Regions from separate parts of the Homo sapiens genome. Here region 1 is linked to region 2. The links come from fine-mapping of genetic effects on gene expression. A gene starts in region 2. The other region holds a variant in brackets. All regions are shown on one strand. Distances are between the middles of the regions. Region 1 overlaps NAGLU (N-acetyl-alpha-glucosaminidase). Region 2 holds the start of RETREG3 (reticulophagy regulator family member 3).

The links. PIP is the estimated chance that this variant, and not a neighbour inherited with it, causes the effect.
Region 1: its variant is the best candidate, but not a certain one, in a credible set for the expression of RETREG3 in whole blood (INTERVAL, PIP 0.85).

The regions. Positions count from the first base shown.
Region 1 is chr17:42,543,098-42,548,512 of GRCh38, forward strand. NAGLU (N-acetyl-alpha-glucosaminidase) reads left to right here. Exons shown (of 6, transcript NM_000263.4): 6 at 1-1,352. The coding sequence ends at 1,141. It also overlaps the pseudogene HSD17B1P1. Among named protein-coding and RNA genes, the nearest start is that of HSD17B1, 7.1 kb to the right of the region's middle. RefSeq lists a silencer at 5,169-5,415. The variant C/T (reference allele first, on the strand shown) is at 2,678.
Region 2 is chr17:42,607,149-42,612,148 of GRCh38, forward strand. RETREG3 (reticulophagy regulator family member 3) reads right to left here and starts at 2,226. Exons shown (of 9, transcript NM_178126.4): 1 at 1,938-2,226. The coding sequence starts at 2,176. It overlaps TUBG1 (tubulin gamma 1), which reads left to right and starts at 2,535. Exons shown (of 11, transcript NM_001070.5): 1 at 2,535-2,638; 2 at 2,960-3,072; 3 at 3,275-3,442; 4 at 4,927-4,995. The coding sequence starts at 2,590. RefSeq lists an enhancer at 2,108-2,217.

The sequences.
Region 1 (5,415 bases), 64 kb before region 2:
CCAGATCAGGGCTGTGCTGGGAGCTGTGCCCCGTGGCCGCCTCCTGGTTCTGGACCTGTTTGCTGAGAGCCAGCCTGTGTATACCCGCACTGCCTCCTTCCAGGGCCAGCCCTTCATCTGGTGCATGCTGCACAACTTTGGGGGAAACCATGGTCTTTTTGGAGCCCTAGAGGCTGTGAACGGAGGCCCAGAAGCTGCCCGCCTCTTCCCCAACTCCACCATGGTAGGCACGGGCATGGCCCCCGAGGGCATCAGCCAGAACGAAGTGGTCTATTCCCTCATGGCTGAGCTGGGCTGGCGAAAGGACCCAGTGCCAGATTTGGCAGCCTGGGTGACCAGCTTTGCCGCCCGGCGGTATGGGGTCTCCCACCCGGACGCAGGGGCAGCGTGGAGGCTACTGCTCCGGAGTGTGTACAACTGCTCCGGGGAGGCCTGCAGGGGCCACAATCGTAGCCCGCTGGTCAGGCGGCCGTCCCTACAGATGAATACCAGCATCTGGTACAACCGATCTGATGTGTTTGAGGCCTGGCGGCTGCTGCTCACATCTGCTCCCTCCCTGGCCACCAGCCCCGCCTTCCGCTACGACCTGCTGGACCTCACTCGGCAGGCAGTGCAGGAGCTGGTCAGCTTGTACTATGAGGAGGCAAGAAGCGCCTACCTGAGCAAGGAGCTGGCCTCCCTGTTGAGGGCTGGAGGCGTCCTGGCCTATGAGCTGCTGCCGGCACTGGACGAGGTGCTGGCTAGTGACAGCCGCTTCTTGCTGGGCAGCTGGCTAGAGCAGGCCCGAGCAGCGGCAGTCAGTGAGGCCGAGGCCGATTTCTACGAGCAGAACAGCCGCTACCAGCTGACCTTGTGGGGGCCAGAAGGCAACATCCTGGACTATGCCAACAAGCAGCTGGCGGGGTTGGTGGCCAACTACTACACCCCTCGCTGGCGGCTTTTCCTGGAGGCGCTGGTTGACAGTGTGGCCCAGGGCATCCCTTTCCAACAGCACCAGTTTGACAAAAATGTCTTCCAACTGGAGCAGGCCTTCGTTCTCAGCAAGCAGAGGTACCCCAGCCAGCCGCGAGGAGACACTGTGGACCTGGCCAAGAAGATCTTCCTCAAATATTACCCCCGCTGGGTGGCCGGCTCTTGGTGATAGATTCGCCACCACTGGGCCTTGTTTTCCGCTAATTCCAGGGCAGATTCCAGGGCCCAGAGCTGGACAGACATCACAGGATAACCCAGGCCTGGGAGGAGGCCCCACGGCCTGCTGGTGGGGTCTGACCTGGGGGGATTGGAGGGAAATGACCTGCCCTCCACCACCACCCAAAGTGTGGGATTAAAGTACTGTTTTCTTTCCACTTAAACTGATGAGTCCCCTGGGTCTGTCAAAATGAGAAGGTCACTGCTGCCACGCTTGGGAGGACTCAGGGCTATAGCATGGCCCTGGGGTGGGACCTGTTCTCCCATCCCTTGCCTCACGTCCCTGTTTTTGTTTGTTTGTTTGTTTGTGACGGAGCCTTGGTCTGTTGCCCAGGCTTGAGTACAATGGCACAGTCTCGGCTCACTGCAACCTCCGCCTCCTGGGTTCAAGCAATTCTTGTGCCTCAGCCTCCCCGGTAGCTGGGACTATAGGCATGCACCACCACGCCAGGCTAATTTTTTTTTTTCCAAGATGGAGTCTTGCTCTGTCGCCCAGGTTGGAGTTTAGTGGCACCATATTGGTTTACTGCAACCTCTGCCTCCCGGGTTCAAGCAATTCTCCTGCCTCAGTCTACCAGGGAGTTAGGACTACGGGCCTGTGCCATCACGCCCGGCTAATTTTTGTATTTTTCATAGAGATAAGGTTTCACCATGTTGGCCAGGCTGGTCTTTAACTCCTGAACTCAAGTGATCCACCTGCCTCGGCCTTCCAAAGTGCTGGGATTACAGGAGTGAGCCACCGTGCCCGGCCACGTCTCTCTTTTTAACACTAATGTTACCCTGACCTTTGAACGTAGAATGCCCTTCTGTTGCAGGAAAACCTCTTTTCAAACCATGTTTGTCCTTTGCTGGCATGCCACAGCAACAGTCACCAACACAGAAGACTTCTGTGACCAAATATTTGGAGGATTTTCCCCACACACACCAAGCAGCAGACATCAGCTGGGTGTCCTCCAATTCAGTTCCAATGTAATCAACCAGAGACAGCATCAGATCCCACAGGGTTAGGGTGCAGATCCATGAGACCACCCCCTCCTTCCCAACGGTTACAAGTCCTGATCCCTGGAACTTCTGACTAACTGGCTTCAAGTTGGAGTTCCCATGACCCCCTTCCCCTCTTTGGAGTCAACTCATTTGCGACAGTGACCCACGAAACACAGGGAAACCCTTATTATGTTTATTGCTTTATTACAGAGGAAAAAAATTTTTTTCTTTCTTTTTTGAGACAGGGTCTCACTCTGTCATCCAGAATGACTGCAGTGGCAGGATCTGGCTCCGTCACCCAGGCTGGAGTGCAGTGGCATGATCTCGGCTCACTACAGCCTCCATCCCCCCAAACCCCACGCCTCAGCGCCCCACCCCGCAAGTGGCTGGGACTCTAAGCATACACCACCACACCCAGCTAATTTTTTTGTAGTTTTTGCAAAGACGGGGTCTCATTCTGTTGCCCTGGCTGGTCTTGAACTCCTGAGCTCCAGCAATCCCCTTG[C/T]CTTGGCCTCCCAAAGTGCTGGGATTACAGGCATCAGCCACCGTGCCCAACCTCAAAGGATATTTTAAAGGATAGAAATAAACAGCCATATGAAGAGATACAGACAGGGCGGTCTGGAAGGGCCCAGAGCAGGAGCTTCTATCTCCATAGAGTTGGGGTTACATCACCCTCCAGGCACATGGATGAGTTCTTCACCTTCTGTCAGCCTCCACACGTTCAGCTCTCAGAAGCTTCCCGAACCCTGTCCTTTGGGCCTTTTATGGAGAACTCCATTGGCTGTCCATGACTGAAGCATGGACAACTGTGATAATGTGATTGGGCAAAAAGGGTCTGATCTAAGCCCAGCAAGGCCAGTCCAGATTCTTTGGGCCTTTGTGCAGCATTCCTTTCTCCAGGGTATGGGGCAAGGACCCACTCTGGAATGAGGATCCTACAACCCACAATCAGATTAGAATCCTGCCTTGGGCAGCTGAAAAGAGGACAGGAGAAGGTCAAAGAGAGGAAAGGCTGTTTTTTGAGGCCTGAGGCGCCCCAACATGACAACGAAAGACTGTAACCATGGTCATGTGAGTTATGAGCTAGGAACCCTGGACGAAACCAACACATATACAATCATCTCCCACCTCCCAACACCTTTACTTTCACAGCCTCTGCAGCAAACTGCGGTCACTATAATCGCTCCTGTGGCACAGAGGCATACCCAGGGGAATCTGCCCAGGGGGCCACTCTGTGCCCACGTGGGAACCCACATCTGCTTGTAAAGCCTCCCCTCCCTCTGACCAGAAACGAGGACAGTTTGTTGTTCCAAGCAGTGGGCTCATGTCTGTTTTGGCTCAGAACAGGGTGGGGAGAGCGGGCCAGGGACCCGCAGGAGGGCTTATCCTTGAGATTGCGTGGGAGACACAACAAGGGGTGGGGGCCCGCAGGCGGGGCGGGGCGAAGCAGGTGATATCCAGCCCAGAGCCCCAGCCTCTCCCCACAGTCTCACCATGGCCTGCACCGTGGTGCTCATCACCGGCTGTTCCTCAGGTATTGGCCTGCACTTGGCAATACATCTGGCTTTGGACCCATCCCAGAGCTTCAAAGGTATAGATAGGTAGGGACAGGGAGGGAGAGAAGGGAAAAGCCCTTGGAGGCCAGAAGAGAAGTCAGATCTTCCTCCTCTCCCAAAACCTCCAGTGTATGCCACGTTGAGGGACCTGAAAACACAGGGCCGGCTGTGGGAGGCGGCCCGGGCCCTGGCATGCCCTCAGGGATCCCTGGAGAGGTTGCAGCTGGATGTAAGGAACTCAAGCTCCCTGGCCGCTGCCCGGGAACGCGTGACCGAGGGCCGTGTGGATGTGCTGGGTGAGCCTCCTGGAAGCATATGGGCTCCTAGGAGCCTTCTCCGCCCTGCGTTGAAACCAACATGTCCCCAGGCCCCTGGAGCATGAGGGGACAGGCCGTGCTGAGGGTGATGCTGAGGCGGGCTGGTTGGGCCTCTGTCCCCGCAGTGTGTGACACAGGCCTGGGCCTGCTGGGGCCGCTGGGGGAGGACGCTGTGGCCTCTGTACTGGATGTGAATGTAGTAGGTACTGTGCGGGTGCTGCAGGACTTCCTGCCAGACATGAAGCGGCCGGGTTCGGGACGCGTGTTGGTGACTGGGAGCATGGGAGGATTGATGGGTGAGTGGCAGGGACCGGGCCCGGAGCTCCAGATTCTTTGTGTGCAGAGCTGAGCCTTGAAGGCAGGCTCCTTAGGGGGTGGGGTGCAATCAGCTTGGAGGGGCACTGCCTGCCGGGGGATGACCCCCTGGCCGCTGCGCCTCAGGAACCTCATCTTCCCACCCAAGGGCTGCCTTTCAATGACGTTTATTGCGCCAGCAAGTTCGCGCTCGAAGGCTTATGCGAGAGTCTGGCGGTTCTGCTGCTGCCCTTTGGGGTCCAGTGAGTCAACACCCCCGTCTCCTCAACCCTCTTAACTCTGACCTAGAGATGCCGAGCACCCTGTCCTGCGGAAGCCGCTCTGGTCTCTGCCCGGCTTACATTTGCTGCGTGCCAGGCACTTAGGCTGGAGCATTGGCACGCATTGTGCCACTTGCTGACCTGGCTGCTGAAGTGTTGGTATTGTTATGGGGAAGCTCCAGCCAAGAGAGGTTAGGTGACTGGCCCAAGGTCATGCAGCGGCCGGGGATCCCGCCAGGTTCGAATTCTGACACCAGGGCTACCTGGCAGCCTCAGATGGGTTTGGGAGGGCTGTCGAGCAATAACCCGCTATTCAAATGTTCTGGTTATCCCCAGCGCTCTTTCCACCTTCGGGACGCAGCGGTGCTGTTCTGGGTCGTGGCCAGGGCCGGGGTCGGGGCCGGTGCTGGGGCAGGAGATGGGACTTGGCGCCTGGGTCGCCTCCGTCCCTGCCCACTTGCGGCTCTCGGGCCAGCAGCGTGAGCCTGATCGAGTGCGGCCCTGTGGACACCGCCTTCATGCAGAAGGTGTTGGGCGGTCCCGACCAGGTGATGGACCGCACGAACACCCGGACCTTCCGCCTCTTGCACTAATACCTCCACCACAGCAAGGAGATCTACCGCGAGGAGGCGCAGCACCCTGAGGAGGTGGTGAAGGTGAGCGGGGGGCGGGACTCCGGGAGCGGGGGCGGTGCGTCGTCCTGCGCGCAGCCCGGGCCAGAGCTCCTCTCCCGCCGCCGCAGGTCTTCCTCACCGCTATGCGCGCCCCGAAGCCGACCCTGCGCTACTTCACAAC
Region 2 (5,000 bases):
GTGCTATAGTGAAGATTTCTACAGAGAGCAATGGGAATCAGTACCTAGGGGTCAAGGAAGAAGCACTTGGCTGGGCACGGTGGCTCATGCCTATAATCCCAGCACTCTGGGAGCCCAAGGCAGGAGGATCACCAGAGCCTAGGAGTTCGAGACCAGCCTGGGCAATATAGTGAGACCCTGTCTCCACAAAAAATTTAAAAAATTAGCCAAGCATGATGATGTGCACCTCTGGTCCCAGCTATTGTGGAGGCTGAGGTGGGAAGATTGCTTGAGCCCAGGAAGTGGAAGTTGCAATGAGCCGAGATCATACCACTGCACTCCAGCCTGGGTGATAGAGCAAGACCTTGTCTCAAAAAAAAAAAAAAAAAAAAAAAGGCCAGGCGCAGTGGCTCACGCCTGTAATCCCAGCACTTTGGGAGGCCGAGGCAGGCAGATCACCTGACCTCGGGAGTTCGAGACCAGCCTGACCAACATGGAGAAACCCCATCTCTACTAAAAAAATACAAAATTAGCCGGTTGTGGTGGTTCATGCCTGTAATCCCAGCTACTTGGGGGGCTGAGGCAGGAGAAATGCTTGAATCTGGGAGGCGGAGGTTGCAGTGAGCCGAGATCACGCCATTGCACTCCAGCCTGGGCAATAAGAGTGAAACTCTGTCTTAAAAAAAAAAAAAAGGGAAAAAGCACTACCAAAAATAAATGAAGAACGTGGTAGGAAAAGTTTACCATCGAGTTTGCTAAAGGCTCTGGAAGCCACAAATGCCAGAGACTACTGTGACACCTTTAACTGGGTCTCTTTCAAACTGGGAGAGGATTAGCTTAATAGCTGAACACTGTTTTCGGGTCAATGAACTTGGAATTATTTGTTCTGCTTCAGCTCACTGAAAATCTTTCAGATAAAGGATAATAAATGTTTTGATTTTAAAACAAATTTTAAGGGGAAAGCTATTTTTAGCAAAAACACAATTAAAAAACACACATATTTTGTTGTTTCAGGCTTATCCAGAATAGTCTTAATCCATTCAGCAGCAGAAAGCCCCCTATAAGTCAGTTCCCTTGGAACCTCCTCCATTACAAATAAATCCAAAATTATGGTTGGTAGATCCTATGAAGTCCTAGGTCCACTTCAGGTGATGACAACTGAGAGAAGCAGCAGTTCCATTTTCACAGAGCATGACACACACAAATAAAGCATATTTACAGTGCTACTTTTCCAGCTCAGGAAAACTCACACACAGTATTAGACATCAATTTCCTTGCCTATAAACCATGGCTAAGGATGCCTCTCTAATTCCTTGGAACAGGGAGGAGTTACAATCACAGGTGGCTTTGACACGCGTGTAATCTCCGTCATCATTTCCTAACTGTTCTTTAAAAGCTTGTAATTTTCTTTCAATTTTCAGCTTTGGGGGCTCACACTGACGCTTAGACTTCATAAACTTCCTTCCTAGATATATAACATGCTAATTCATGCGAATCGCTCAAGCTTGTTTTATAATCACACCTATGGATACCTTTGCAAGACTTCACGCCTCTACTCCAACAATAAACTACTAAAACCTCTGGAAACAATCTAGAACTTGCACTTGAGCAGACAAGAGAAAGGAAGTGATGGCTTTAAAGGGACGCAGCTTTGTCGGGCTCAAAAGAGGAGCCCTCGCTCACTCTTGAGCGGCTCAAGATGTTACCAGAAGCTCCCGCCAGATGTGCGGGGCGGGGGTGCGGGCACAGGTAAGGCAGAGAAGATGGGTGGACGGCCCTGGGAAGAACTAGGGTGCCGAAGCCTGCAGGCGGGATGGAGTGGAAGGAGGTGAGGCAAAATTAGGCAAGTACAGGAAGGAGCCAGTGCAGCGAAGAAAACAGGGCAGGCGAGAAGTAGAGCCCTAGAGGAACCAACGAATTCGGGACTCGGAGGGTTTCCGAGGGTCCAGTTCTCTCACCAGAAAGCCGCGTTCAGCCCCAGGCACCACAGAGCGCTCCTAGCTGGCCGCTCCCACACCAGGGCTGCCTGCACCCGACTCAGCAGAGGCTCGTAAGGCCCCAGCACCTCCACCAGGGCCCGCTGCGCCGCCTCAACCTGCTGGTCCCGCTCCCAGGAGCCTGACACATCTCGGCGGCCCCTGAAAGTCGACCCCGAAGCCGGGCCTGGGGTCGTGGGAACCCCTTCGGCCTCAGCCATCTCCCCGCGGCAGCCACAACATCCGGGGCCGTGGCCCGACAAGTCACAATAACAGCAACTGCGCAGATGCGCGATTCGGCGGGGGAGGTGGCTTCGCACCACAGCGCGCTTGCGCGCAGGCCCAAGCAGGCGCCCACCCAGAGGGGAGGGAGGACGCCGTACCCCGCCCTCACTGAGGCGCGGAGCCGGATCCGGAGGCGCCGAGCCGCATCCGGAGCCGCGCACGCGCAATCTGCATGAACGAAGGCCAGTGCTTAAAGACGTGCCATTCATTGCCAGAACTCGATTCTCATTGGAGCGGAGGAAGTTCGTGGGTGGAGCTGGTTGTTTGGCGCCTGCGTCTTGCGGCGAGCGGGCTGGCGTGCGGCGCCGTTGCGGGCGGGAGCGGCTGCAACGCCGGTGCCTGAGGAGCGATGCCGAGGGAAATCATCACCCTACAGTTGGGCCAGTGCGGCAATCAGAGTGAGCGAAACTCCGGCCCCTCAGCTAGCCAGGTTCCTTAGGGTCAATGGGATCTCGCTGTGGGATCCTGGACTCCATCTGTCCTTGCCAGAATCGTAGTTCTCTGAAAGGCGAGACATCCCTGACCCAGTGTCCACTTGCCCAACCCCGAGGGGCCCTCCCCTGCCCAGTCCCTGGCGTACAGTCCTTTCCTCAGACACGGGAGAGTCCTGCGGCTTGACTTCTTATCCCTGGACGCAGGCGCCCAGTCCCCCGGCTCCTGATTGGAACCTGCCCGGACCTAGATATCTTCTTTCTCCCCTGCCCGCCCCTTCCCCCCAGTTGGGTTCGAGTTCTGGAAACAGCTGTGCGCCGAGCATGGTATCAGCCCCGAGGGCATCGTGGAGGAGTTCGCCACCGAGGGCACTGACCGCAAGGACGTCTTTTTCTACCAGGTGCCCCCAGCGACTTGGCCGGGGGCGGCAGTTGCCCAAGGGGGCGGAAGGGAAGGGAGTGGCCTGGTACTGGGAACCCCGCTGGGCAGTAGGGCCAGGCGGCTGGCTTGAGGAGGGAGGGCCGGAGGGAGCCAGAGTTGGGAGGACTTCGGACTTGGGCCGCCCTAGCTGATTGGGCCCCCTCCTGGACTCCCCTTGACAGGCAGACGATGAGCACTACATCCCCCGGGCCGTGCTGCTGGACTTGGAACCCCGGGTGATCCACTCCATCCTCAACTCCCCCTATGCCAAGCTCTACAACCCAGAGAACATCTACCTGTCGGAACATGGAGGAGGAGCTGGCAACAACTGGGCCAGCGGATTCTCCCAGGTCGTTTCCTATTCCCTGGCAGGGCCCACAACTCGCTGGGTAGGGACAGGCTCTATGACGTCCCGAAGAGAGGGAAAACCGGATCAGGGATGTATGAATGCTGGAGGGAGAGACCTGGCTGCAGGGAGTGGACTATGTAATATTGTCAAGCGCCTACACTAGCTAATGCAGTGTGCCAGGTCATTCTAAGTGCTTTACATATATTAATTTTTCTAAATCTCCCAACAACCCTAGAAGTAAGTACTACAGGTCCACAGTCCCTTATCTGCCTTTCCAGGATCCAGAAAGCCATGAAACCAAAGGACATTTCATAACTAGTTTATCAGCAAAAACAAATTTCAATGAAGACAGGCTGTTTTATAGTTTCTTTTTTTTAATTTTTATTTATTTATTTTTTTTGAGACGGAGTCTCACTCTGTCGCCCAGGCTGGAGTGCAGTGGCACGCTCTCAGCTCACTGCAACCTCTGCTGCCCGGGTTCAAGCGATTCTCCTGCCTCAGCCTCCCGAGTAGCTGGGATTACAGGTGCTTGCCATCACGCCTGGCTAATTTTTGTATTTTTAGTAGAGACGGGGTTTTACTGTGTTAGCCAGGGTGGTCTTGATCTCCTGACCTCGTGATCCACCTGCCTCGGCCTCCCAAAGTGCTGGGATTGCAGGCGTGAACCGCCATGCCCGGCCCTATAGTTTCTATCCAACTTACTGTCATTAGTGATGCCTTTTATTACAGAAATACTAATATATTTGATTAACGTGCTTCTGATTAAATAAAAATTCCCACTGGAATTTTATTTAATATATAGTATATATACCATAATACCTTTCTAAAATCTGAAATATTTTGAATTCCAAAACATAACTGGCCCCAACACTGTTAGATAAGGGTATATGGACCTGTATTATTACCTTCATTGTACAGATGAGGAAACTGAGGCATAGAGCAATTAAATAAGCTGCCCAGAGCTACATAGAAGTAGAGTTAATGGGCCAGGCGTGGTGGCTCACGCCTGTAATCCTAGCACTTTGGGAGGCCAAGGCAGGCAGATCACCTGAGGTCAGGAGTTCAAGACCAGCCTAGCCAACATGGTGAAACTCTGATTCTACTAAAAATACAAAAAATAGCTGGGCATGGTGGCATGCGCCTATAATCCCAGCTACTGGGGAGGCTGAGGCAGGAGAATCGCTTGAACCCAGGAGACGGAGGTTGCCATGAGCCAAGATCGCGCCACTGCACTCCAGCCTGGGAGAAAGAGAGAGACTCCATCGCAAAAAAAAATAGAGCTAATGTATGAACCCAGGTAGTCTGGGTGTAGAGTGCTTTCTTGTAACCACTGCACCGTACTGCCTCTCAATGTAGATAAAAGCAGGTAGCTATGCTCCATAAAAGGACTTCTGGGTGTTATAAGGAGAATTGAGGGTGGCTTTTCTGAGGTCAGAGACCTCCCATGGTTCTGTCCCACTCTGACCCTCCCCTATGTCTGTACAGGGAGAAAAGATCCATGAGGACATTTTTGACATCATAGACCGGGAGGCAGATGGTAGTGACAGTCTAGAGGTAAG